7 linked regions of the Homo sapiens genome follow. The protein of the gene in region 1 purifies or fractionates together with the protein of each later gene. This does not show direct contact. Each region holds a gene or a part of one and is shown in the gene's direction. Other genes may lie near its edges.

What was found.
Region 2: the proteins of KRR1 (region 1) and DDX18 purify together in Homo sapiens (affinity purification with mass spectrometry; 3 studies listed by BioGRID and IntAct, with this or other methods). This does not show direct contact.
Region 3: the proteins of KRR1 (region 1) and NOC4L purify together in Homo sapiens (co-immunoprecipitation; 3 studies listed by BioGRID and IntAct, with this or other methods). This does not show direct contact.
Region 4: the proteins of KRR1 (region 1) and RBM42 purify together in Homo sapiens (co-immunoprecipitation; 2 studies listed by BioGRID and IntAct, with this or other methods). This does not show direct contact.
Region 5: the proteins of KRR1 (region 1) and ZC3HAV1 purify together in Homo sapiens (affinity purification with mass spectrometry; 2 studies listed by BioGRID and IntAct, with this or other methods). This does not show direct contact.
Region 6: the proteins of KRR1 (region 1) and U2SURP purify together in Homo sapiens (co-immunoprecipitation; 2 studies listed by BioGRID and IntAct, with this or other methods). This does not show direct contact.
Region 7: the proteins of KRR1 (region 1) and RRP12 purify together in Homo sapiens (affinity purification with mass spectrometry; 2 studies listed by BioGRID and IntAct, with this or other methods). This does not show direct contact.

The regions. Positions count from the first base shown.
Region 1 is NC_000012.12:75,490,363-75,494,609, reverse strand, and holds the end of KRR1 (KRR1 small subunit processome component homolog), read left to right. Parts: 3' UTR 1-3,747; downstream 3,748-4,247. Other genes in the region: GLIPR1 (glioma pathogenesis-related protein 1 precursor), read right to left, coding at 4,092-4,204. UniProt on the Homo sapiens protein: Part of the small subunit (SSU) processome, first precursor of the small eukaryotic ribosomal subunit.
Region 2 is NC_000002.12:117,824,691-117,828,190, forward strand, and holds part of DDX18 (ATP-dependent RNA helicase DDX18), read left to right. Parts: coding exon 1-18; intron 19-249; coding exon 250-411; intron 412-756; coding exon 757-909; intron 910-1,578; coding exon 1,579-1,692; intron 1,693-3,500. UniProt on the Homo sapiens protein: ATP-dependent RNA helicase that plays a role in the regulation of R-loop homeostasis in both endogenous R-loop-prone regions and at sites of DNA damage.
Region 3 is NC_000012.12:132,147,457-132,150,212, forward strand, and holds part of NOC4L (nucleolar complex protein 4 homolog), read left to right. Parts: intron 1-176; coding exon 177-326; intron 327-423; coding exon 424-523; intron 524-615; coding exon 616-650; intron 651-1,135; coding exon of another isoform or gene 1,136-1,152; coding exon 1,153-1,203; intron 1,204-1,327; coding exon 1,328-1,439; intron 1,440-2,756.
Region 4 is NC_000019.10:35,632,036-35,635,110, forward strand, and holds part of RBM42 (RNA-binding protein 42), read left to right. Parts: intron 1-900; coding exon 901-966; intron 967-1,041; coding exon 1,042-1,217; intron 1,218-1,651; coding exon 1,652-1,984; intron 1,985-2,220; coding exon 2,221-2,338; intron 2,339-3,075. UniProt on the Homo sapiens protein: Binds (via the RRM domain) to the 3'-untranslated region (UTR) of CDKN1A mRNA.
Region 5 is NC_000007.14:139,099,721-139,103,220, reverse strand, and holds part of ZC3HAV1 (zinc finger CCCH-type antiviral protein 1), read left to right. Parts: intron 1-3,500.
Region 6 is NC_000003.12:143,018,570-143,022,069, forward strand, and holds part of U2SURP (U2 snRNP-associated SURP motif-containing protein), read left to right. Parts: intron 1-1,399; coding exon 1,400-1,467; intron 1,468-2,029; coding exon 2,030-2,124; intron 2,125-2,780; coding exon 2,781-2,816; intron 2,817-2,903; coding exon 2,904-2,986; intron 2,987-3,500.
Region 7 is NC_000010.11:97,370,341-97,373,840, reverse strand, and holds part of RRP12 (RRP12-like protein), read left to right. Parts: coding exon 1-11; intron 12-103; coding exon 104-266; intron 267-640; coding exon 641-795; intron 796-1,037; coding exon 1,038-1,105; intron 1,106-1,674; coding exon 1,675-1,768; intron 1,769-2,759; coding exon 2,760-2,918; intron 2,919-3,044; coding exon 3,045-3,125; intron 3,126-3,280; coding exon 3,281-3,386; intron 3,387-3,500.

The DNA.
Region 1 (4,247 bases):
GTTAAATGCATAAAATACATAGGATTATAAAGGAAACCAATTAAATTGAAATAGTTATCAAAATGTTTAAAACAAGATTTGTGATAAAGTAATATGTGCTTCTCTATTAAGATCTACCGGGGGCTATTAGTTTCAATGCAGTGATGAACACAAACTATATTTTGAGTTCTCTGCAGCAAGTGGAATGTGGTATGAAAATATCTGATATTTACAAAGATGATACTGCTAAGTCAGAGTCACGTTTATTGCTAATATGATGGTGGAGTGTTGTCTTCATTCATAATGAAAGGAAATGTTATTTTTAATAGAGGTTAGTGAAAATAAAAATAAAACTATTTTCTAATCAAAGTTTATGGTCCTCCTCTCCCCAGCACTCTACAATTACCTCCAAAGTTGAGAACTCTCACCTTAGACACACAACTTTATAACGATACCTTATTTCCAACCCCAAATCTATGTTCTTATCTCATTTTGCTCCAAATTTTAAGTTGCTTCAGAAATTTAATTAGCCCTCTGCTTACTCTACACCATGGAAAAAAGGTAATATAGTAGAAATTCTGATAGCAATTTCAAAAGATGTCCAAAATAGACATTAATCATTGGAATGTCTTTCATTGTTAATAAGCACAGTATTAAGTGGTTTAAGTTCTAGAATGATTTTAATAAAGTCATTTATGATACTTAGTTGTGCATTCCAAACTGTAAAGGAAAAGGTAAAAAATGCTACTTAAAAATAAGCTAAAAACCAAGACAGTCGGTGAGGTCTGTGGAAATGGTAGTATTCATCTTGGGAGAAACATGCTACTGGAAAGGCCTGGATTTGTCTAGATGGGAGTCATTAAGACTGTGGGACCTAAAGTATTCAGCACAATAAAGCAACAGGACATTTCAATGTTTTCCCTGGTAGCCTGAGAGAGAAGAGGGTTGGGGTTATGGGACCCAGGGGAAGACCGAAGACAAATCTTTAAAGAAAAAGATAAATATGGGTAAGGGTCCCTAAGGCAGTGACGGCCTAAGCACACTGGTACTATCTTGACTATCTTGTGGTCAAAGTTATTTCCTCTTCTGTGCTATAATCCTCTCCTCCACTAATCCACTCTGAGTAAAGATCTGTTACACACCATACCCTTGTTCATGGTGCCCAGGGGAAATGAAGAGGAGAGTATTACAGGCAACTGGAAGATTAAGCATCCCAGACCCCATTCTGAGGTATCAGAAATATTGAGGAGGATACTGGACTTCCTAAGATTATGTGGAATGGGGGCCTACAACTTTTTGTGTATAGGAAAATAATACCTCAGAGGGCAGAGGGCAAAGGGAAATGAGGACATTCCTAACTGGTCTCTCTGTTTTACCTTTTATGCTCCTCTAATCCATTTTCCATCCAGACTGATGTCCAAATTTAAAGGTCTCATCGCTCCCCTGCTTAATATACTTGAATGACTTCTTATGTAAACTTTGTCATGATCTAAAAGTTCCCGCTAGATCTGCAACTGCCTTCCTCCCCCCGTTTCATCTGTTTAGCAGACCGAGGGCACCAGTCTCTGTGGTTTAAACTTGCCAAACTTTTCTTCACGGAAGTTTTGCTGTTCTTTTCTCCACTAGACAGCTGTTCCAGAAGTTCTTATGTCTGATTCCTTCTCATTCTTCATGCCTAAGCTTAAATATAACACAAGAAGCCCTTCCCTGATTATTCTAAACAGGGGCCTTGCCTATTGATAGTTTCTATTACAGTATTATTTATAGTTCCTTAATTGCCCCATAATGATGCAGTTATTTTACTTGTATTTTTATTATCTGTTTGCCCCATAAATATTACTCTCATAAAGACAGAGACTGCCCTGTTCTCCTTTGGAGCTCAGTAAAACAAATATTTGTTGAATAAATGAATATTTGAAGTTAGTCTTTATGGAAGCATTATAACTTTGGTTGTAAGTTTTATAATTTAATATTGTTTATAACTCTGAAGATAAGTGAGTCTAAACCAGGAAAATTTACATTTATACTTTAATGAATAAAAATCATGAATACTTACAAAACATTCACTATTGCCAAGCATTATATATACCTAGTATTTTACAAAGCCTTCTCTTGTCACTTTCATAGCTACTCTAAGTGATGGGTCCTGTAACCCTGATCTATTGGAGGTTAAACTGAGATTCAGAGTTAACTTGTCCAGGGTCACACAGTAAATTAATTGTATCTTAACCATTAAAAATGTCATATGAGGCCGGGTGTAGTGGCTCATGCCTATAATCCCAGCACTCTGGGAGGCTGAGGCAGGTGGATCACTTTAGCCCAGGAGTTGGAGATGAGCCTGGGCAATATGGCAAAACTCTGTCTCTACAAAAAAATTAACTGGGCATGGTGGCATGTGCCTGTAGTCTCAGGTACTAGGAAGGCTGAGTTGGGAGGATTGCTTGAGCCTGGGAGGTTAAGCCTGCAGTGAACCGTAAGCGAGCCACTGTACTCCAGCCTGGGTGACAGAGTGAGAGACCCTGTCTCAAAAAAAAAAAAAAAAGTCATGAAAAGTTACCACTAACTGAATTATGGCTTTGTCTAGTTTTTTCTGGGTTTTCTTTATTTTCCAACTCTTAAGATATTAAGTCAAAGCTGTCATCTTCAGAATGACGCTTTGTCTCCTCCTTCACACCTACAGCACTCAGTCAGAGTATCGAGCATGTCTTCTGCACATTACACCAGGGAAATGGCTTTCTTTCAGCCAATCTCCAGGAATCCAAAAATTCAAAGGCAACAAATTAAAGATCATTATATATATTGCAAATGGTTAAAAACCTTTAAAATATAAAAACTTTTATAAATAAGAAAATCTAGTAGAAAAATGGTCAGCCCACATGATTCACAGAAAAAGGAATATAAATAGACAATTATGTGAAGAAATTTATAATTACTAGTAATCACAGAGATGCAAAAGAAAGCAAATGAAATGCCATTTCCATCAAATTAGAAAATACTAAGAAATTATAATACCTAGTACTGATGGTGAAATACAAATTGATATAATGGTGGAATGTAATTTGGCAATATGTACTTAAAACAAAAATGGTCACAGTCTTTACGTGCTAGTATCTCAAGGAATTATAGGGAAATAGAAGTGACTGAAGATACATATATGAGGTTGTTCATCATATATTAAATGAAAATATAGTGAACAATCTAAATTCTTCAACAGGATGGTGGTACCATCAAGAGCATGGACTCTGGAGCTAGACAGCCAGATCAAAGTCCATCAGTGATAGTCACTAACTGTAGAACTTTGGGCAGGTTGCTGACCCGTGTGTGCCTTGCTGTTCTCATTTGCCAAACAGGGGTAGTAATAGGAGCCATCTCATAAACTTCTGGTGAAGATTAAGTTAATATATGTGAAGCACTTTAACAGTGCTGAGAGCATTGTAAGCATTATATAAACAATCTATCATTTTTATGATTAAAATCACTTAAAATTTTGAAAAGGAAAATTTTTCACAGCATAATTTTAAGTGAAAAATAGAAAATGTATATTTTCAGTATGATCAGATTTCTAAATATGTGTATGACACAAGCACACATATGTAAGTTTAAAGAAAGTAGGAGGAAGGTGTTTGCCCTGTTTCCCAAAGTGGGAACTATATCTGTTTTAAAAACAACTGTCAAAAGTAAATGAAATAGGTTATATAAGTTGAGGAATCTGTTTTGCTTTGAAAATTGTGTAAAATTGCCAAGTTTCTAATAAACCAATAAATATAACATCAGTTCTTCCACTTTGTGGTATTACCATATACAATTTATGTCCCTGATGAATATTTTAGTCTTACCACTCTTAAAAATATGTGCGTATGTATTTAGGTAGTATATATAAAGGATGTACACACACACACACACCCTCTCTCTCTCCAAGAAAAATGTACCAGAATGTTAATTAAGTATATCTCTGGGCAGAAGAATTAAAGGTTATGTTAATTTTTTATTTATACTTTATCCAGATTTTCTATAATGAAGAGGAATACTGCTAAAATGTTTTTTTTTGTTGTTGTTTTTTTTTGCGGGGGGGGGGGGGCGTTTCCTATAAACCGGTTGATTCAGGCACTTACCCTGGTCCGTAGTTGCATATAAAATGTGCTCCATTGGAAAGAGCGTCAAAGCCAGAAACTTTAGGGCAAAATTGAACTGCGCAGCCAACTTTGTAACTATCTGCCCAAACAACCTGAAAGGAAATAAGGATTTTTAACAGAGAAAAACCATAAGAT
Region 2 (3,500 bases), on another chromosome or scaffold:
GTGGATGGTCTTGAACAGGTACTTTTTATCAATAACTGAAAACTGTAGGGATCTTACTTGGTGTTTTTATGTAATTGTTGGAAGGATCATTCAGAAAGCAAATGGGTTAATGAACTTTTAAAATGCTGTAGGTGAGGCATGACAGTTTACACACTGTGTTTATCAGTGCTCTTGATGAAATTACACAAGTTAGGAAATGGAAAATGTCCACTTGGTTCATTTGTATCTGTCTGCTTAAACGCTTTCTAGGGATATGTTGTTTGTCCTTCTGAAAAGAGATTCCTTCTGCTCTTTACATTCCTTAAGAAGAACCGAAAGAAGAAGCTTATGGTCTTCTTTTCATCTTGTATGTCTGTGAAATACCACTATGAGTTGCTGAACTACATTGATTTGCCCGTCTTGGCCATTCATGTAAGTGATGATGATGAGCTCATTGAAAACAGGGTATGCTTATTAAATCCTATAGATTGTAGGATTGGAGGTATTGCCCTCTCCTGGAAACATTGTTCTGAGTAGTTTGATCACCACTAGATGATGGATCCTGTGTGGGGGAGCGCTGCTGGGTGTGGAGGGGTATGAGGACTTTCGAAGAGTGCAAGACACCATCCTCCTTGAGGGGCTTGCGGAACAGTTGGGGAAATAGGACATAGGCCAAGGGATGAGCTCGAAATAGGGTAACAGTTCCACAATTTGGGGGTTCTACTGCTAGTCTTCCTCAAGATTCCAGCTCTAATGGATGTTTTTATTTAATTCTAGGGAAAGCAAAAGCAAAATAAGCGTACAACCACATTCTTCCAGTTCTGCAATGCAGATTCGGGAACACTATTGTGTACGGATGTGGCAGCGAGAGGACTAGACATTCCTGAAGTCGACTGGATTGTTCAGTATGACCCTCCGGATGACCCTAAGGTAACTGGCATCTTTGGAATATCTTCAGAATGACTCTGCATTAAAAGTTCACTTATTCTCCCAGTTCCCTGACGGAAACTGCATTCCACATTCAAGGTAAAGATCCCTACTATACAGTGACTGCAGTATTTCTCTGGTATTGAAAAGTACTTAAGGCTTTTCAGGGCTCAAACGGGCTGTGCCAGAGGATTGAAAAGGATCAGTGGGACTTAAGTTATGAAAATGAGATCCTTGGAATGATCTCTTAAGAACAGCAGATGCCTGAAGGAAATAAAATTGCTTAAGGAAGTAGATAAACTTCTGTAGTATATGTGGTAGAATAAGCTTCATTGAGAAGTATTTTCAACAAACACTGGATTAAAGCCGTTTTGATGATGAAGCACACATAATACTCATTTTATTAGATCGCTGTTAATGCAAACATCATGTCCAGCCTTTTTTTTTTTTTTTTTTTTTTTTTTTTGGGCCTCAATCATTGGCCTATTGGGGGTGATGTGCACAGAGCGATTGCTGGCCCAGCTTTGTGGGGGTGTGGTGAAGGTGTGTGTGGCCCAGCACCGTGGGACTACACCATCTCAGTACAGACATGCACATACTCAGGATGCAGATACGCAAATGGGCTCATGTGGAAGTCACTGCGTTAACTCAGATTTTCTTTCTCCACCAAAGGAATATATTCATCGTGTGGGTAGAACAGCCAGAGGCCTAAATGGGAGAGGGCATGCCTTGCTCATTTTGCGCCCAGAAGAATTGGGTTTTCTTCGCTACTTGAAACAATCCAAGGTAAAGATCTGTACTTGGAGAAAGATTTCTCTTGGTGTAGGGATTGTTAGCAAGCAACATTTCTACATGTGTCAGAGGAGTCTCGAGTCTGGCCAGTGCTGTTACAACCATTCTTATGGCAATTAAGCAAGTAAGGTTTTATGTACTTCTAGCCCAAGAAGTGAGCACAGAAGGAACTGCCCACATGGCTCGGCTTTCTAGCTCTGTTACCCAGCAACACCTCTGTGTCCCAGCCTCTCCTTTCCTGTTCCCTCCAGCCCTCTTTGAAACCTTCTCCACTCCTTTGAAGCTCCCTCACACCTAGTCATCTCTGCTTCTGCTCCCCTTCTTTCCTCTTACCTCATGTGAAGCAGTGGGGAATCCTTGTTCGCTCTAGCCTCTGCCTCCTCCCCTGCCCTCTGTCTCCTATTCATCAACTCTTGGCCTACAGTCTCTTCCTTGCGGTTGGCGCTTTACCATCTCAAATTTCTCACTGTAAAAAAGTAACTTCAACCTTAAACCTGTTCTTCTACCCCTGCCTGCAGGAGCTACTGTCTGTTGCCTTTCCTCAGTCAGCCTTACTGGAAAAATGGCTTATATTCTTGCCATTTACCTCCCTCTCAGTCCCTAACCAGCCTAATTTGGCTTTAGCTTTCTACTATCACACCAGAATTGAATCCATCAGGACCCTAAGTGGCCTCTTCATTGCTAGGCCATGTGGGGGATGCATATCAGGCCTTCTCCTGCCTGACATTTACATCCTCATTGGCCTTTCTGGCATAGTCTTGATGATAGGCTTCCTCTACCCTGTAACTGCAGGCAGTTCCCTGAAATTGCTCTACAGCTTTTGCACACTTTGTCCAGAATGCTTGGTTTCAGCTCGCCTCTGTCTTTGCTGGGAAGCCATCGCTGATCTCCTGCCTCCTTGTTCCCACAGCACAGGTGCTCATCAGGTTGACATTTCTTTCTTTCTTTCTTTTTTTATTATTATTACACTTTAAGTTCTAGGGTACATGTGCACCATGTGCAGGTTTGTTACATATGTATTCATGTGCCATGTTGGTGTGCTGCACCCATAAACTCGTCATATACGTTAGGTATATATCCTAATGCTATCCCTTCCCCCTCCCCCCACCCCACGACAGGCCCCGGTGTGTGATATTCACCACCCTGTGTCCAAGTGTTCTCATTGTTCATTTCCCACCTGTGAGTGAGAACATGCGGTGTTTGGTTTTCTGTCCTTGCAATAGTTTGCTCAGAATGATGGTTTCCCGTGTCATCCATGTCCCTACAAAGGACATGAACTCATCCTTTTTTATGGCTGCATAGTATTCCATGGTGTGTATGTGCCACATTTTCTTAATCCAGTCTGTCATTGATGGGCATTTGGGTTGGTTCCAAGTCTTTGTTATTGTGAATAAACATACATGTGCATGTGTCTTTATAGCAGCATGATTTATAATCCTTTGGGTATATACCCAGTAATGGGATGGCCGGGTCAAATGGTATTTCTAGGTCTAGATCCTTGAGGAATCGTCACACTGTCTTCCACAATGGATGAACTAGTTTACAGTCCCACCAACAGTGTAAAAGTGTTCCTGTTTCTCCACATCTCCTCCAGCACCTGTTGTTTCCTGACTTTTTAATGATCGCCATTTTAACTGGTGTGAGATGGTATCTCACTGTGATTTTTATTTGGATTTCTCTGATGGCCAGTGATGATGAGCATATTTTCATGTCTGTTGGCTGCCTAAATGTCTTCTTTTGAGAAGTGTGTGTTCATATCTTTCGCCCACTTTTTGATTGGGTTGTTTGATTTTTTCTTGTAA
Region 3 (2,756 bases), about 57 Mb from region 1:
GGGGGCGGGGCCTGCTGAGCTGAGCCTGGCTGTTGGCTGGGACACTCCTGTGGCTCCTGTGGCCCACCCAACCAGGAGGAGTCTGCCTGGGGGGCTCGATGGGGCAGGGCTGCCTGCCTGGACCTTGCTGGCGTATGCTGGGCCGGGCAGGGCTGCTCACTGGTCCTTGCCCCTAGTTGGTGGTGGGAGGCCTGCTGTCTCCTGAGGAGGACCAGAGCCTGCTCCTGTCCCAGTTCCGGGAGTACCTGGACTACGACGACACCCGCTACCACACCATGCAGGCAGCCGTGGATGCCGTGGCCCGGGTCACTGGCCAGCACCCCGAGGTGGGTGATGGGGTCCTGTCGCCAGCATCATGCTGTTGCCTCCCAGGGAGGCAGGGACTGGGGGGCGGCGTCCAGGCACTCAGGCCAGGCTCCGCAGGTGCCCCCCGCCTTTTGGAACAATGCCTTCACGCTGCTGTCTGCCGTGAGCCTGCCCCGCCGGGAGCCCACCGTCTCCAGCTTCTATGTGAAGCGGGCGGGTGAGTGTGCTGAGAGTCAGGGGCGGACAGGGCTGAGCCTTGGTCTGCCTCCCCTGCGGGTCAGGTGACCTTTGCCCTCGCTTTCCCTGCAGAGCTGTGGGACACCTGGAAGGTTGCTCACCTGAAGGTGAGTTGCTTCTGGAGAGCCGGGCACCCTCCCGGGTTTGGGGGTGTGTGTGGGGTGCATGTGAGACCCCATGGAGGCTGCCGCCTTCCTCACCAGAGGAAACTCCCAGGGTACAGGTGGCAGCTTGCACGGCCACCAGGTCACTCGAAGTGTGGGAGGTGACGAGACCTGTGAACTCGGGACCCTCCCTTGGGTCAGAGGCCACCGCCGCCTCTTGGAGTCAAGCCTCTGGTGCCACCTGTGGGCCCCGTGGGCTGTTTTGGGCGCAGCCCCCCTCTTGGCCATGGTCTTGCCAAAGCTGCTTTCTTGGCTGTTCTGAGACTCCAGCCTCGAGGGCAAGGCGTACCTGACTTGAATGGGGACAGGAAGAAGGAAGGCAGGGTCAGAAAAGTGGAGAGCAGGCTTGTGTTGGCTCAGGCTGGGCTTCGGGGTGCCCTGGCAGCTGCTCGGGCTCTGGTCTGGGGTGGGGAGGGCGGCGAGTGCAGTCTGGACCCCGTTGCAGGAGCACAGGAGGGTTTTCCAGGCCATGTGGCTCAGCTTCCTCAAGCACAAGGTAGGGGCCAGGCCGGGGAGGGGGCGGGGGCGGCATCCGGGTCTCCCCCAGGGCGGAGGCCTCACCCCGACCCGCCGGCCCCCGCCCACCCGCCCCTCACCCCCACCTGCCGGCCCCCGCCCAGCTGCCCCTCAGCCTCTACAAGAAGGTGCTGCTGATTGTGCATGACGCCATCCTGCCGCAGCTGGCGCAGCCCACGCTCATGATCGACTTCCTCACCCGCGCCTGCGACCTCGGTGAGTGCCGCCGCCTCGCTCACACCACACCCCTAATCCCCTCGGTGAGTGCCGCCGCCTCACTCCTACCACACCCCTAATCCCCTCGGTGAGTGCCGCCGCCTCACTCCTACCACACCCCTAATCCCCTCGGTGAGTGCCGCCGCCTCACTCACACCACACCCCTAATCCCCTCGGTGAGTGCCGCCGCCTCACTCCTACCACACCCCTAATCCCCTCGGTGAGTGCCGCCGCCTCACTCCTACCACACCCCTAATCCCCTCGGTGAGTGCCGCCGCCTCGCTCACACCACACCCCTAATCCCCTCGGTGAGTGCCGCCGCCTCGCTCACACCACACCCCTAATCCCCTCGGTGAGTGCCGCCGCCTCGCTCACACCACACCCCTAATCCCCTCGGTGAGTGCCGCCGCCTCGCTCACACCACACCCCTAATCCCCTCGGTGAGTGCCGCCGCCTCGCTCACACCACACCCCTAATCCCCTCGGTGAGTGCCGCCGCCTCGCTCACACCACACCCCTAATCCCCTCGGTGAGTGCCGCCGCCTCGCTCACACCACACCCCTAATCCCCTCGGTGAGTGCCGCCGCCTCGCTCACACCACACCCCTAATCCCCTCGGTGAGTGCCGCCGCCTCACTCACACCACACCCCTAATCCCCTCGGTGAGTGCCGCCGCCTCACTCACACCACACCCCTAATCCCCTCGGTGAGTGCCGCCGCCTCGCTCACACCACACCCCTAATCCCCTCGGTGAGTGCCGCCGCCTCACTCCTACCACACCCCTAATCCCCTCGGTGAGTGCGGCCGCCTCACTCACACCACACCCCTAATCCCCTCGGTGAGTGCGGCCGCCTCGCTCACACCACACCCCTAATCCCCTCGGTGAGTGCCGCCGCCTCGCTCACACCACACCCCTAATCCCCTCGGTGAGTGCCGCCGCCTCGCTCACACCACACCCCTAATCCCCTCGGTGAGTGCCGCCGCCTCACTCCTACCACACCCCTAATCCCCTCGGTGAGTGCCGCCGCCTCGCTCATACCACACCCCTAATCCCCTCGGTGAGTGCCGCCGCCTCACTCACACCACACCCCTAATCCCCTCGGTGAGTGCCGCCGCCTCGCTCACACCCCTAATCCCCTCGGTGAGTGCCGCCGCCTCGCTCACACCACACCCCTAATCCCCTCGGTGAGTGCCGCCGCCTCGCTCACACCACACCCCTAATCCCCTCGGTGAGTGCCGCCGCCTCGCTCACACCACACCCCTAATCCCCTCGGTGAGTGCCGCCGCCTCGCTCACACCACACCCCTAATCCCCTCGGT
Region 4 (3,075 bases), on another chromosome or scaffold:
TAGGACATTACTTCCTTATATGTATGAAAAGGATGCGTGTTCTTACTTGGATGTAAAATTCTGGTATAATCTCGGTTAAACCAAACGTGCTACTTATGTTACCTAAATCCTGTTATACTTATTAATCTGATGATCTCTGAGAAGTTGTAATGTCTCTTACTTTTTAGTATGGTTTTGATCAAAATGCAAATCTGACCTACTTCCCCTGCCCAGCTTCCAACCCTGCTGTGGCTCCCCAGTGCCCTCAGGAGGACACCCATGGCTCAGCCAAGAATGCTGTGCTTTAAGAACAAAAAAGCTCTACTGGGGTGCCTGCTGGCTGCTCAGCCCTTCTCATGACACTCTCTAAGCCCCACTACTTCTATTACAGTTACACTAAACTGAAAAGGGAAAGGTTTTGCTTATAAATATTCTTCCTGCCAATAATATTCCCACTCACCCCTTGCCTAACACTTCATTGCCCCTTGGGTCTCAGCTCACAGGTCCCTTTCTCCAGGAAGCCTTCCCTGGGCCTGGCTGGGTCAGAGGGCTCCCCTCTCTTAGCACTGATCCCACTGCCTGGGCTTCCCTGCTTCCAGCGCTGGTCCCCACTGGCTCTCCTTCTCTAGTGATGTCTCCATTCCCTCCTCCTCTGGACCAGGAGCTCCCTGAGAACCCTGGGTCTGTTGGTGTGTCCCCAGCATTGCCTGCCACAGGGCTGAGCCAGAGGAGCTTCTCAGTGGTAAATTTTCATGGAATGAACCAGGGGAGAGGCCCCCACATCTCCAGGAGGGCTCCCCAGACTCTTCTCCAGGATTTCTTGATGCTGAGAGTGCACACACACACACGCATGCACACACACACCTTGTCCCAAGTGCCCCTGTCCCCCATGACACACACCCCCATCTCTCTCTCCCACAGCTGTGGCCCCCCAGAGGGCCCCTATCCTGCGTCCAGCCTTCGTCCCCCACGTGCTACAGAGAGCAGGTGAGGGGCCAGGGTCATCATCCCTGCCACATAACTCCCCCCAGGCCCTGGAACTCCCCACTAACACCCTGACAGATTCCGCTCTCTCCTCTGCAGCAGCCGGCCCCCGCCCTATGGCCCTACGGCCCCCTCACCAGGCCCTCGTGGGCCCCCCTCTGCCTGGGCCCCCTGGACCACCCATGATGCTGCCACCAATGGCTCGGGCTCCAGGGCCCCCGCTGGGCTCCATGGCTGCACTGAGGCCCCCTCTGGTGAGTGTGAACAGGGAACTAACGGTCAGATGTGCGGTGGACGGGGAGACCATCCATCCTGGCCCAATGGGCTATGTCTGAGTTGGCCTCTCTCCTGACTTTCTGTTTCTCTACCTTCTCACTCTGCCTTTGTCTCTGTCTCTTTCTGCATCTTTCTGTGGCAAAATCTGTTCTCTCCTTTTGTGAAGGGAGTACAGAGAGAAACATGCTATTGGAATATTTCTCTTTTGATTGTTACTGATGTTCTTGTCTGTGGCTGTCTCTCTCTGCCTGTGTTTCTCCTTCTCTGTGTTTGTCTGGCTGGAGACTCTCTGCTTGGGTGTCTCTTGGCTGCTCTCTGGCCCCCAGGCCCTTTCTTTGTTGGATGGAATGGAGATGACAGTAAAGTCTGAGCCTGTGAGCCGGCCCCCCTCATGCTCTCCTCTTACCCACAGGAAGAGCCAGCAGCACCCCGAGAGCTGGGCCTAGGCCTGGGGTTGGGCCTGAAAGAGAAGGAAGAGGCAGTGGTGGCGGCGGCGGCTGGGCTGGAGGAGGCTAGCGCGGCTGTGGCCGTGGGGGCAGGAGGTGCCCCAGCTGGCCCTGCAGTCATTGGGCCCAGCCTGCCGCTGGCCCTGGCCATGCCATTGCCCGAGCCTGAGCCCCTGCCCCTCCCGTTGGAGGTCGTCCGCGGCCTCCTGCCCCCGCTGCGCATTCCTGAACTCCTGTCCCTGCGTCCTCGGCCCCGGCCCCCTCGGCCAGAGCCACCCCCAGGCCTCATGGCTCTTGAGGTAAGCAGGGAGCCTAGCGGTGAAGGGACAGAAGGGACGGGGGGCAGACAGGAGCCCAGGAACTTCCACACAGACAGACCGGACAGCAGGAGGACCTGGGGGAGGGAGGCGGACACATGTGCCCCACATCCAGAAGCACATCCAGCCCTTACTGTGGTGGCAGGAGGGCCGGGGACCAAAGGACAGTGGGAGACCCCAATACCAACCCCTTTGCACCTCTCCCCTTTCCTCTGCAGGTCCCAGAGCCCCTGGGTGAAGACAAGAAGAAGGGGAAGCCAGAGAAATTGAAACGGTGCATTCGCACAGCGGCAGGGAGCAGCTGGGAGGACCCCAGCCTGCTGGAGTGGGATGCAGGTAAGCTGCTGAAGCTCGAGGTCAGGCGTGGCTCGGCCAAGGTCAGACCAGGCTGCTGTCCTTGGGCTGCAGACTGGGAGGGTGAACCCTCTCAGTAGGGTGGGCGCTGTTGTTAGCCCACCTTGGGGAGGGGAGGCTATGGCTCAGGGGCTGGTTCTTCACCTAGCCATGGGCCGGAGCTTGGTGGAGGTGACGGGGACATGGGGCTTTGTAGCCTGTTTTACTCATGAGGTGCCTGGCTTCAGAGAGCATTCTTTTTTTTTCCCAACTCTTAGGATAAAAATTTTTTTTTTTTTTTTTTATGAGACAGAGTACCACTCTGTCGCCCAGGCTGCAGTGCAGTGGCGCAATCTTGGCTCACTGCAGCCTCCGCCCCCCAGGTTCAAGTGATTCTCCTGCCTCAGCCTCCCAAAGTGCTGGGATTACAGGCATGAGCCACTGTACCTGGCCGGGAAAAATTTTAAACACAGATGGCACAGTAAACACCCGTCTACCCACCACCTAGATTCTGCAATTAACATTTTGCTGTGTTCACTTTTTTCCTCTTTGTGTATGTATCTGGTTTCTTTGTTTTTAGCTCAGTCATTTGAAGCAAGTTATAAGTGAATTAATCACTTCTAAATATCTCAGTATTTATCTCCTAAGAAAAGAGATATTTTGGCCAGGCACGGTGGCTCACACCTGTAATCCCAGCACTTTGGGAGGCGGAGGCAGGTGGATCACTTGAGGTCAGGAGT
Region 5 (3,500 bases), on another chromosome or scaffold:
TATATAAAAAATATTAGCTGGGCGTGGTGGTGCATGCCCATAGTCCTAGCAGTGCTGGAGGCTGAGGCAGAAGGATTGTTTGATCCCAGGAATTTTGAGGTTACAGTGAGCTATGTTCATGCCAGTGCACACCAGCCTGGGCAACAGAGTGTGGCTCTGTCTCCAAAAAAATTTTTTTACAACAAATTTTAAAGTTTTTGTATTAAAGTTTTTATTTTATATATATCATATATAAACACACACACACATATACATATACATATACATATACATATACATATATATATACTTTTTTTTTTTTTGAGACAGGATCTTGTTCTGTCACCACTCTGGAGTGTGGTGGTGCAAATATGGCTCACTGCAGCCTCCACCTCCTGGATTCAAACGATCCTCCCATGTCAGCCTCCCAGTAGCTGGGACCAGGCTAGTGCCACCATACCTGGCTAATTTGTGTGTGTGTGTGTGTGTGTGTGTGTGTGTGTGTGTGTGTGTATAGAGACAGTGTCTCACTATTTTGCCCAGGCTGGTCTCGAGTGCCTGGGCTCAAGCATTCCTCTTGCCTCAGCCTCCCAAACTGCTGGGATTACAGGCATGAGCCACTAAGCCCAGCTCAGCATGATTTATTACTGTTAAATATTTAGACATTTGTATCCAAGCCTCCATTTATAACCTTGCTCTGGGCCCCACCAATTTTAGAGAAGGTCTACTCTGATTCCCTGAAATGTCTTCATTGTTTTCTTTTGCATGAATGTACACAATTTATATATTGATCTTCTTATTATTAAAATTGAGACTGGCCTCAGTAGCTAATATCTGTAATCCCAGTACTTCAAGAGGCCGAGGTGGGAGAATCTCTTGAAGTCAGGGGTTCGAGACCAGCCCGGGCAACATAGCTCCTACAAAAACATTAAAAAATAAAATTAGTTGGACACAGTGGCACACACCTGTGGTCCCAGTTACTCAGGAGGCTGAGGCGGGAGGATCACTTGAGCCTGGGAGGACAAGGCTGCGGTCAGGTGCAGTTGCGCCACTGCCCTCCAGCCTGGGCAATAGAATGAGACCCTGCCTCTGAAAAAACAAAGTAAAATTGATATTGTTTTAAGTATTTGCTATTAAACCATTATGCTTTGAACATTTTGGTATATGCTTCTTTGTGTACATGTACATGAGTTTCCCTAGAGATCTAGTAGTGGAATTTTGATTTTTTTTTTTTTTTATTGATCATTCTTGGGTGTTTCTCACAGAGGGGGATTTAGCAGGGTCATAGGACAATAGTGGAGGGAAGGTCAGCAGATAAACAAGTGAACAAATGTCTCTGGTTTTCCTAGGCAGAGGACCCTGCGGCCTTCCGCAGTGTTTGTGTCCCTGGGTACTTGAGATTAGGGAGTGGTGATGACTCTTAACGAGTCTGCTGCCTTCAAGCATCTGTTTAACAAAGCACATCTTGCACCGCCCTTAATCCATTTAACCCTGAGTGGACACAGCACATGTTTCAGAGAGCACAGGGTTGGGGGTAAGGTCATAGATCAACAGCATCCCAAGGCAGAAGAATTTTTCTTAGTACAGAACAAAATGAAGTCTCCCATGTCTACTTTCTACACAGACACAGTAACAATCCGATTTCTCTATCATTTCCCCACCTTTCCCCCTTTTCTATTCCACAAAACCGCCATCGTCATCATGGCCCGTTCTCAATGAGCTGTTGGGTACACCTCCCAGACGGGGTGGTGGCCGGGCTGAGGCGCTCCTCACATCCCAGACGGGGCGGCAGGGCAGAGGCGCTCCCCGCATCTCAGACGATGGGCGGCCTGGCAGAGACGCTCCTCACTTCCTAGACGGGATGGCGGCCGGGAAGAGGCGCTCCTCACTTCCCAGACTGGGCAGCCGAGCAGAGGGGCTGCTCACATCCCAGACGATGGGCGGCCAGGCAGAGACGCTCCTCACTTCCCAGACGGGGTGGCGGCAGGGCAGAGGCTGCGATCTCGGCACTTTGGGAGGCCAAGGCAGGCGGCTGGGAGGTGGAGGTTGTAGCTAGCCGAGATCACACCACTGCACTCCAGCCTGGGCAAGATTGAGCACTGAGTGAGCAAGACCCCGTCTGCCATCCCGGCACCTCGGGAGGCCGAGGCTGGCGGATCACTCGCGGTTAGGAGCTGGAGACCAGCCCGGCCAACACAGCGAAACCCCGTCTCCACCAAAAAAATACGAAAACCAGTCAGGCGTGGCGGCACGCGCCTGCAATCGCAGGCACTCGGCAGGCTGAGGCAGGAGAATCAGGCAGGGAGGTTGCAGTGAGCCGAGATGGCAGCAGTACAGTCCAGCCTCGGCTCCGCATCAGAGGGAGACGGTGGAAAGAGAGGGAGAGGGAGACCGTGGAAAGAGAGGGAGAGGGAGACCGTGGAAAGAGAGGGAGAGGGAGACCGTGGAAAGAGAGGGAGAGGGAGACCGTGGAAAGAGAGGGAGAGTGGAATTTTGATTCTTAAAGTTTTATGTGATAATGCCAAATTGTTTTCCGAAGTGTGTTTGCCAAGTTATACTCCCACCAGAAGAATAAGAGCCTTCCCTTGCCTCACATAGTGGCCAAGTGGTATCGTCAGCTTTTAAAAATTTGTGCCAATACAAGGAATGTGAAATTGTATCACTGTGGTTTTTTTTGTTTGTTTTTGTTTTTGTTTTTGTTTTTTTTTGAGACAGAGCCTCGGTCTGTCGCCCAGGCTGGAGTGCAGTGGTGCAATCTCGGTTCAGTGCAGTCTCCGCCTCCTGGGTTCACGCCATTCTGCCTCAGCCTCCTGAGTAGCTGGGACTAGAGGTGCATGCCACCACCCCTGGCTAATTTTTTTTTTTTGTATTTTGGGTAGAGACAGGGTTTCACCATGTTCGCTAGGGTGGTCTCGATCTCCTGACCTCGTGATCTGCCCACCTTGGCCTCCCAAAGTGCTGGGATTACAGGCGTGAGCCACCGCGCCCAGCCCTCATTGTGGTTTTAATTCTTTATATATTCTGGATCTCTAGCCCTTTTAAGTCTTATTACTCATTTTTTTAAGTTTGTCTTACTTGGCATCTTAGTAGTTGCTTCTTATTCGCATTTTACTTTTTTGGTCATCATAGCACTCTATTTTTGTTTGTAACAGTTTTTGTTTGTTTGTTTTTTACCATTTTAAAAATGGCTAAAACTATTTTTATTTATTTTTTGAGATAAAGTATTTATTTTTTGTTTGTTTTTTACCATTTTAAAAATGGCTAAAACTATTTATTTTATTTATTTACTTTTTTGAGGTTTATTTATTTATTTATTTATTTATTTTTTGTTCTGTCACCCAGGCTAGAGTGCAGTGGTGTGATCTCAGCTCACTGCAACCTCCGCCTCCTGGGTTCAAGCGATTCTCTTGCCTCAGCCTCCCAAGTAGCTGGGATTACAGGCACGCGCCACCATGCCTGGCTAATTTTTGTATTTTTAGTAGAGACAGGGTTTTGCCACATTGGCCAGGCTGCTCTTGAAC
Region 6 (3,500 bases), on another chromosome or scaffold:
TACACACACCGAGAAGTGGAATTGCTGGGTCACATGGTAACTATGTTTAGCCTTTTGAGAAACTGCCAGTTTTTCCAAAGTGGTTGTATCACTTTACAGTTCCACCAGTAATGTATGAGGGTTCCAGTTTTCTCACGTCGTACACTAACACTTTGAGACCAGCCTGACCAACATGGAGAAACCCCGTCTCTACTAAAAATACAAAATTAGCCGGGCATGGTGGTGCATGCCTGTAATCCCAGCTACTCGGGAGGCTGAGGCAGGAGAATCGCTTGAACTCGGGAGGCAGAGGTTGTGGTGAGCCAAGATCACAGCATTGCACTCCAGCCTGGGCAACAAGAGCGAAACTCCATCTCAAAAACAAACAAACAAACAAACAAAACTATTTTGTTTGAAAAGTTTATTTTAGTCATTTTAGTGTGTGTGAAGTTGTACTTCATTGTGGTTTTGATTTGCATGTACTTGATTATATTGAGCATCTTTTCATGTGTTTATTGTCCATTTATAAGTTTCTTTTGGAGAAATGTCTGTTCAGATACTTGGCCCACTTTTTAATTGGGTTATTTGTATTTTTGTTGTTGAATCGTAAGAGTATTTTACATCTTCTTGAGTCAAGGTTCTTATCAGCTATATGATTTGGAAATGTTTTCTGTTCTCTGGGTTGTCTTTGCATTTTCTTGATGGAAGCATGGAGGTTTTAAACTTTAATGGAGTCCAATTTATCAGTTTTTTTCTTTTGTTTACGCTTTTGGTGTCATATCTAAGAAACCATCACCTAATTCAAGATTATGAATATTCATTCCTGTGGTTTTCTCCCAAAAGTGTTATAGTTTTAGCTCTTACTTTTATGTCCATGAACCATTTTGAGTTAATTTTTGTACATTTAGTATATGGTGTAAAGTAGAAGTCCAACTTCATTTTTCTGTATGTAGATATTCAGTTGTCCAAGCACCATTTGTTGAAAAGATTATTCTTCCCTATTAAATTATGTTGGCACTTCTAAAAGAAGGATTCCAAAAGTAGATTAAGAAGCAGTTTTAAAAGAGGATTCCAAAGATGTTACTTACTGTTCCAGTAACTCATGTCCTCCAGAGGTGATTTTTGAAGAGTGCGTATTTTTGGCAGTTACTTTCCATGGCAGTTCAGTTACTTCATGTTCATTAATTTCCCTGACTACTGGTTGTCATTTTAATTGTTTAATTGTAGTAATAATTTAATTGTTTGTTATTTTGAAGGAAGGGGAAGGGAGGTTCAATGATAAGAAAAGCATTCTTCCTTTTTAATTTAAATAATTAGAACATACAATTTGTACTGAAATGATGTAAAAAGGCTCTTATTATTGAATCATTGGTTTTGCTTATCCTTTTGTTTGAAGTATAACTTGTCATATCCTTTATAGCCACTTAAAAAAGGAGAGAAAGAAAAGAAAAAAAGCAATTTGGAACTCTTCAAAGAAGAATTAAAGCAGTAAGTTTTATAGTGTGGAGAATAACTATCATAGGTGTATTGAGCTGATACATAAACAGATGCAAGTATAAAGAATATACTGTACCAGTTAGTTATTACTAACCAGTTTGCTATGAGATTGTTTTAGATATTATAATATTTGGTGGGCTATCTTTGAAAATAAATTAGCATTTAGTCCAGCACCTGGGTTGCTTGCATTACGAGGATTCAGTTCAATTGATTTACTTAATGTCCAGAGTCCTGTTTGCAGTGGAAACAGTATACTCACTGGGATGGGAGTGAGGGGCAGTTAGACTTAGCAAGAAACAAATTCAGTGGTTTTAGTGTTTAATTTCCTCCTCACCTTTAAAGTAGGCTTTGTGTTCCATTGGTAGTATGATATATCAGAAATTTGCTCGTGGTTGTATTATAGCTGAGGGACCCTCTAATCTTGGTTATCAGTACCAGTATTTAATTACAGATATTTCTAGTTATTTGATGATAGTAATTTGATAAGCGCTATTCTGAAATGTGAATGAACAAATTTTGGCTCATTATAAGTGATTGTAAATATTTTCAACAGAATTCAAGAGGAACGTGATGAGAGACATAAAACAAAAGGCAGATTAAGTCGATTTGAACCTCCTCAGTCAGATTCTGATGGTCAGCGTCGTTCTAGTAAGTGGCATTTATTTTAATGTGTATGCTTGTGATTAATTACAGTAGTTCCCACCTTATCCGTGGCGGGTTACATTCCAAGGATCACCAGTGGATGTCTGAAACCATGGATATATACTATCCTTTTCCTTACACATTCATAGCTGTGGTAAAAATTAATTTGTAAATTAGGCACAGTAAGAGATTAACAACAATAAGTAATAGAACAATTATAACAATATACTGAAATAAAAGTTATGTGCAATCCCAACACTTTGGGAGGCCGAGGCAAGTGGATTACCTAAGGTCAGGAGTTCGAGACCAGCCTGGCCAACATGATGAAACCCTGTCTGTACTAAAAATACAAAATTAGCCGGGCGTGGTGGTGCGTGCCTGTAATCCCAGCTACTCAGGAGGCTGAGGCAGAAGGATTGCTTGAACCTGAGAGGCAGAGGTTGCAGTGAGCCGAGAACGTGCCATTGCACTCCAGCCTGGGCGACAGAGCAAGAGTCTGTCTCAAAAAACAACAACAACAACAACAGAGTTGTGTGAAGTGGTCTCTCTTTTTGTCTCTCAGAAATACCTTACTGTAACAAACTGGGGGAAACAAAGGTGAGGGTAAGGGGGGACTACTGTATTATAAAAACTAATAATTGTCTTCTTTTCTCCCCTTTAAGTGGACGCGCCTTCAAGAAGAAATAGATCATCTGGTGGTAATACAGTTTTTTGCTCTTTTAATCGATAAATTTTCCAAACTTTATGTTTTGCAGGTTATAATTCTTTTTTTCTTTCTGCCCTAGTTCTTGATGATTACGCACCTGGCTCACATGATGTAGGAGATCCAAGCACTACTAATTTATACCTTGGAAACATTAATCCACAGGTAATATTAAGTAAGATGAATGTTGATTGATATGCTTTATGCTTTTGGAAGAAAGCTTTGTTAGTCAAAAAAAATCAAGATTCTGAAGCTGACAAATCTGATGGAATTGGATAGTCTTTAGAGTTGTCTTACTGGTATGGCCCAGGTTGTCTTGCCACATATTCTTGTTTCCTCTTTCAGTAACTAGATTGAACTCTGGATTTGAAATGTTTTACTAGGTGCTGATTTTATTATTAAATCAGGGTGTGACCATTGATGAATAATATTATTTTGAGACTGTCCACTTCTGATGCATACTTGTTTCCTTGTGGAGTCCCTTTTTCTTCTCATAGTAGTAAACTACTCTTTGTGGTTTGTCTTTTATATTTTAATTCTTTTCCTGCATTGGTGCTGTTAATTATGATATGGGGAATGTAGTAACGGTAGTATATAATATGCTATTATTAAAAATTATATTTTGCATATATACTGTTACCTGTTTTCTCTGCATTTGATTACATGGGTAGTTGATTGT
Region 7 (3,500 bases), on another chromosome or scaffold:
TCCAGTGGCAGGTAAGGGTCAGCTGGGGGAGGGCGTGGGGAGAAGCACACAGGGGCACAGGTGGCTGCGTGTCACCTTCCTTTATTGTCCCCTCCTTCTCCAGATGTGGACACTCCTGCCTGGGTTCTGCACAAGGCCTACAGATGTGGCCATCTCCTTCAAAGGGCTGGCACGGACGCTGGGCATGGCCATCAGCGAGCGTCCAGACCTGAGGGTCACCGTGTGCCAGGCCCTGCGCACCCTCATCACCAAGGGCTGCCAGGCAGGTACGTGTGGGCTGTGGGAGTGGGGGCTGGGGAGGATGACACAGGTCCCTGGCCCCATCCCCTGGCTTGCTACACTCCTTGCCAGGCAGAGCCACAGAAACTCACCTCTGGAGCTCATCCTTTGCTGCTTCTGCTGCAGACCCCAGGGGATAACTTTGCTGGCTCCCTGGGGTTGGAGCCATCGAGGACCATGGGCCACTGGGGCACCAGGCTCTCCATGCCCTGGCTCAGCTTCTGCCACAGAGAGCCCCAAACCCATGGATTCCAAGTCCTGCCAGCTCCCCCAAGAGAGGGCCTCTGGGCCACAGCCCCAGCAGCCACTGAGGCACAGTCAGCTCCTGTGCCTTTAGTGCAAACTTTGATCCTTTTACCAGAGGCTGACCGTGCTGAAGTGAGTCGCTTTGCCAAGAACTTTCTGCCGATCCTCTTCAACCTGTATGGGCAGCCCGTGGCAGCCGGGGACACTCCAGCCCCTCGCCGGGCTGTGCTGGAAACCATCAGAACTTACCTCACCATCACTGACACTCAGGTGAGCCACGGAAGGGAGGGAAGGAGGGAGGAGGGGAGCTCTCAGGTGGGCAGGGTCAGAGAGGCCGAGACCCTACCCACCAGGGCTCACGTGGGTCTCTGTGTTTTGGAGCACATACCAGCAGTCATGGCTTGGGCAGGGCTGGGGGCTGATGGGGAGGCCGCTCTGGGACTGCTGCCATTGCTGCTTTCTTTCGCTCCTCCCCAATGACTCTCTTCTCCTCATTCCCTCGGGGCCACAAGTTGGTGAACAGTCTCCTGGAAAAAGCCAGTGAGAAGGTGCTCGACCCTGCCAGCTCTGACTTTACCAGGTAACATGCTCAGGGCCTCCCACTTGAGCTGGAGCAGCCCAGGGAGCTGGAGGGTGCATCTGGCAGAAGCACTGTGGGTTCCCTCTTGCATTATTTAAGGAAGCCTTGAAGTATTAACTCTCCAGGCTGTGCTGAGAGGCTGTGCTGACTAGTTCCTTCTTCCTGGAGAGGCCATTTAGTCTGGTAGGGAGGAACAAGGACCCAGGAGATACACTGCCCAGGTTCTGATCCCAGCCCCGTCACTCATGGGCTGTGTGACCTTGGACAAATTACTTATCCATTCTGCCTCTAAGGCCTCATCTGTAAAATGGGCACGATAATAGTTCTTGCAACAAGGTTGCTATGAGGATTGAAGGAGTTAGCAGGTGTAAAACACCAGGAACGGTGACTGGTACATCATGAATGCTCAGTTAGGTACTAGCTATTATTATTGTTCATGAGCTCCTTCAAGCCCCTTGTCCTCACCCTGACTTCTCCCACCTCCCCATACCCAGTAGACGTAAGAACACTGGTAGTCTGCGCCCTTCTCCAGCTCCCCATCCCTCTCCTTGTCCTCCTGCCCCGAGCAGATTGTCTGTCCTGGACCTGGTCGTGGCCTTGGCTCCGTGTGCTGACGAAGCTGCCATCAGTAAGCTATACTCCACCATCCGGCCCTACCTAGAGGTGAGCCTCGGGGGCCAGGAGCGCCACACAGCCACGCTTGGGGGCAGATGGGCTGTGGGAAGGTGGGGCCTGTCTTCATGTCTTTGTCCCTTGCTGCTTCCCGAGATCAGGTCCCTGTCTGCTTTCTCCTGCAGTGGCTTCTCTTTGTGTCCTGTGTAGCCCATCTGTCTTGCAGGTCCCAAAGGGACTGAAATGCACAGCTGTGCTTAGGCCTTGCGTGCTGAGTGACTCTTGTAGAACCAAGGCCATGCTCCTTTGCCTGGCTCACTCCCCAGGCCCATCCCAGACCGGCCTGAGCTTTATCCCACCCAGTCCACTCTCTACTTCTGCTGCAGCCTCCTTCAGCTGCCTTAAGCCTCCCTGATATAACAGGCCCTGTCTGTGCCTTTGCAGGGTTTGGGTCCTCAGCTTGAAATGCCCTCTGCTGTGGCCAGCAACCCTGCAGATCTCAGCCCAGCAGTGACCCCCTGAAAGCTGCCCCCATTGCCACAGTTTAGTAGCAGTTACCTAACAGTGTGAGAAGTGCTCTGGGGCAGCACTGCAGGTGGACATGGAAATCCAGGGCCAGGCCACGTCACCTCAGGAAAGGTGTCCGGCGTTGGGGGTTGGGGGAGTGTGACAGAGAGCTGGTTTGGAGGAGCAAGGAGTTGTCAGTCTTGGAAGGAGAGAGAAGAGTGCTCCGGCTAGAAAGAGCAGCAGATGTGCAGGCCTTGGCGCGTGCCAGGCACCATGAGCTCAGGCCACTGGAGTGAGCACTGTCCAGAGCTGGGTGAGTGGAGTGGATTGGTGGGCCCCACGGCACACACCCCCAACCCCTGTGCCTCGCCCAGGAGTTAGCCACTCGCTGTCCACATTCCACTGGTCCTCTGTCAAGCCACATGAGCCCCCACGGACCCCTGCTCAGAATCCCTCCAGTGCTGGGGGATGCTCCGTGGATAGCATTGGACAGGGAGTGAGCCCCAGGCCTCCCTCACCGGTTCCTGTCTGCCAGAGCAAGGCCCACGGGGTGCAGAAGAAGGCCTACCGAGTGCTGGAGGAGGTGTGTGCCAGTCCTCAGGGCCCCGGGGCCCTCTTCGTGCAGAGCCACCTGGAGGACCTGAAGAAGACACTGCTGGACTCGCTGCGGAGCACCTCCTCACCCGCCAAGAGGGTGAGGGCTCTAGGGCCACCCGCTCTGCCGAGGGAGCCTGGGCAACACCAGGAAAGGAGCCACTGTTGAGGCTTGTTGGGTGGAGGTAGCATTGAGGGGTCCTGACTGGTAGCCCTTTGCCCACAGCCCCGTTTGAAGTGCCTCCTACACATCGTGAGGAAGCTCTCAGCTGAACACAAGGAGTTCATCACTGCCCTCATCCCAGAGGTGAGTGTGCGGGTGTGTTTTAGAGGGGGGTCCCTGGAATGTGGCTCTTAAGGGCCTCAGGATCCAGGGAGGGCAGTGATGGGAGTGGGAGGACTCGATTCGCTTCCCGGGCAGATGGCTCAGGGAGCAGATGCTGATGGAGTTGTCTTGGCCAGGTGATCCTGTGCACCAAGGAGGTGTCGGTGGGCGCACGGAAGAACGCTTTTGCACTGCTCGTGGAGATGGGCCATGCTTTCCTAAGGTTTGGCTCGAACCAGGAAGGTGAGGCCCAGGGGGCTGGGGGTGGACACTCTGCTCATAGACTGGGTGGGGGGAAGCACCCCTCAAAAAAGGTGGGGAGAGCTCTGTGCCCTGGCCCTGGGCAGGCTGCTCCTC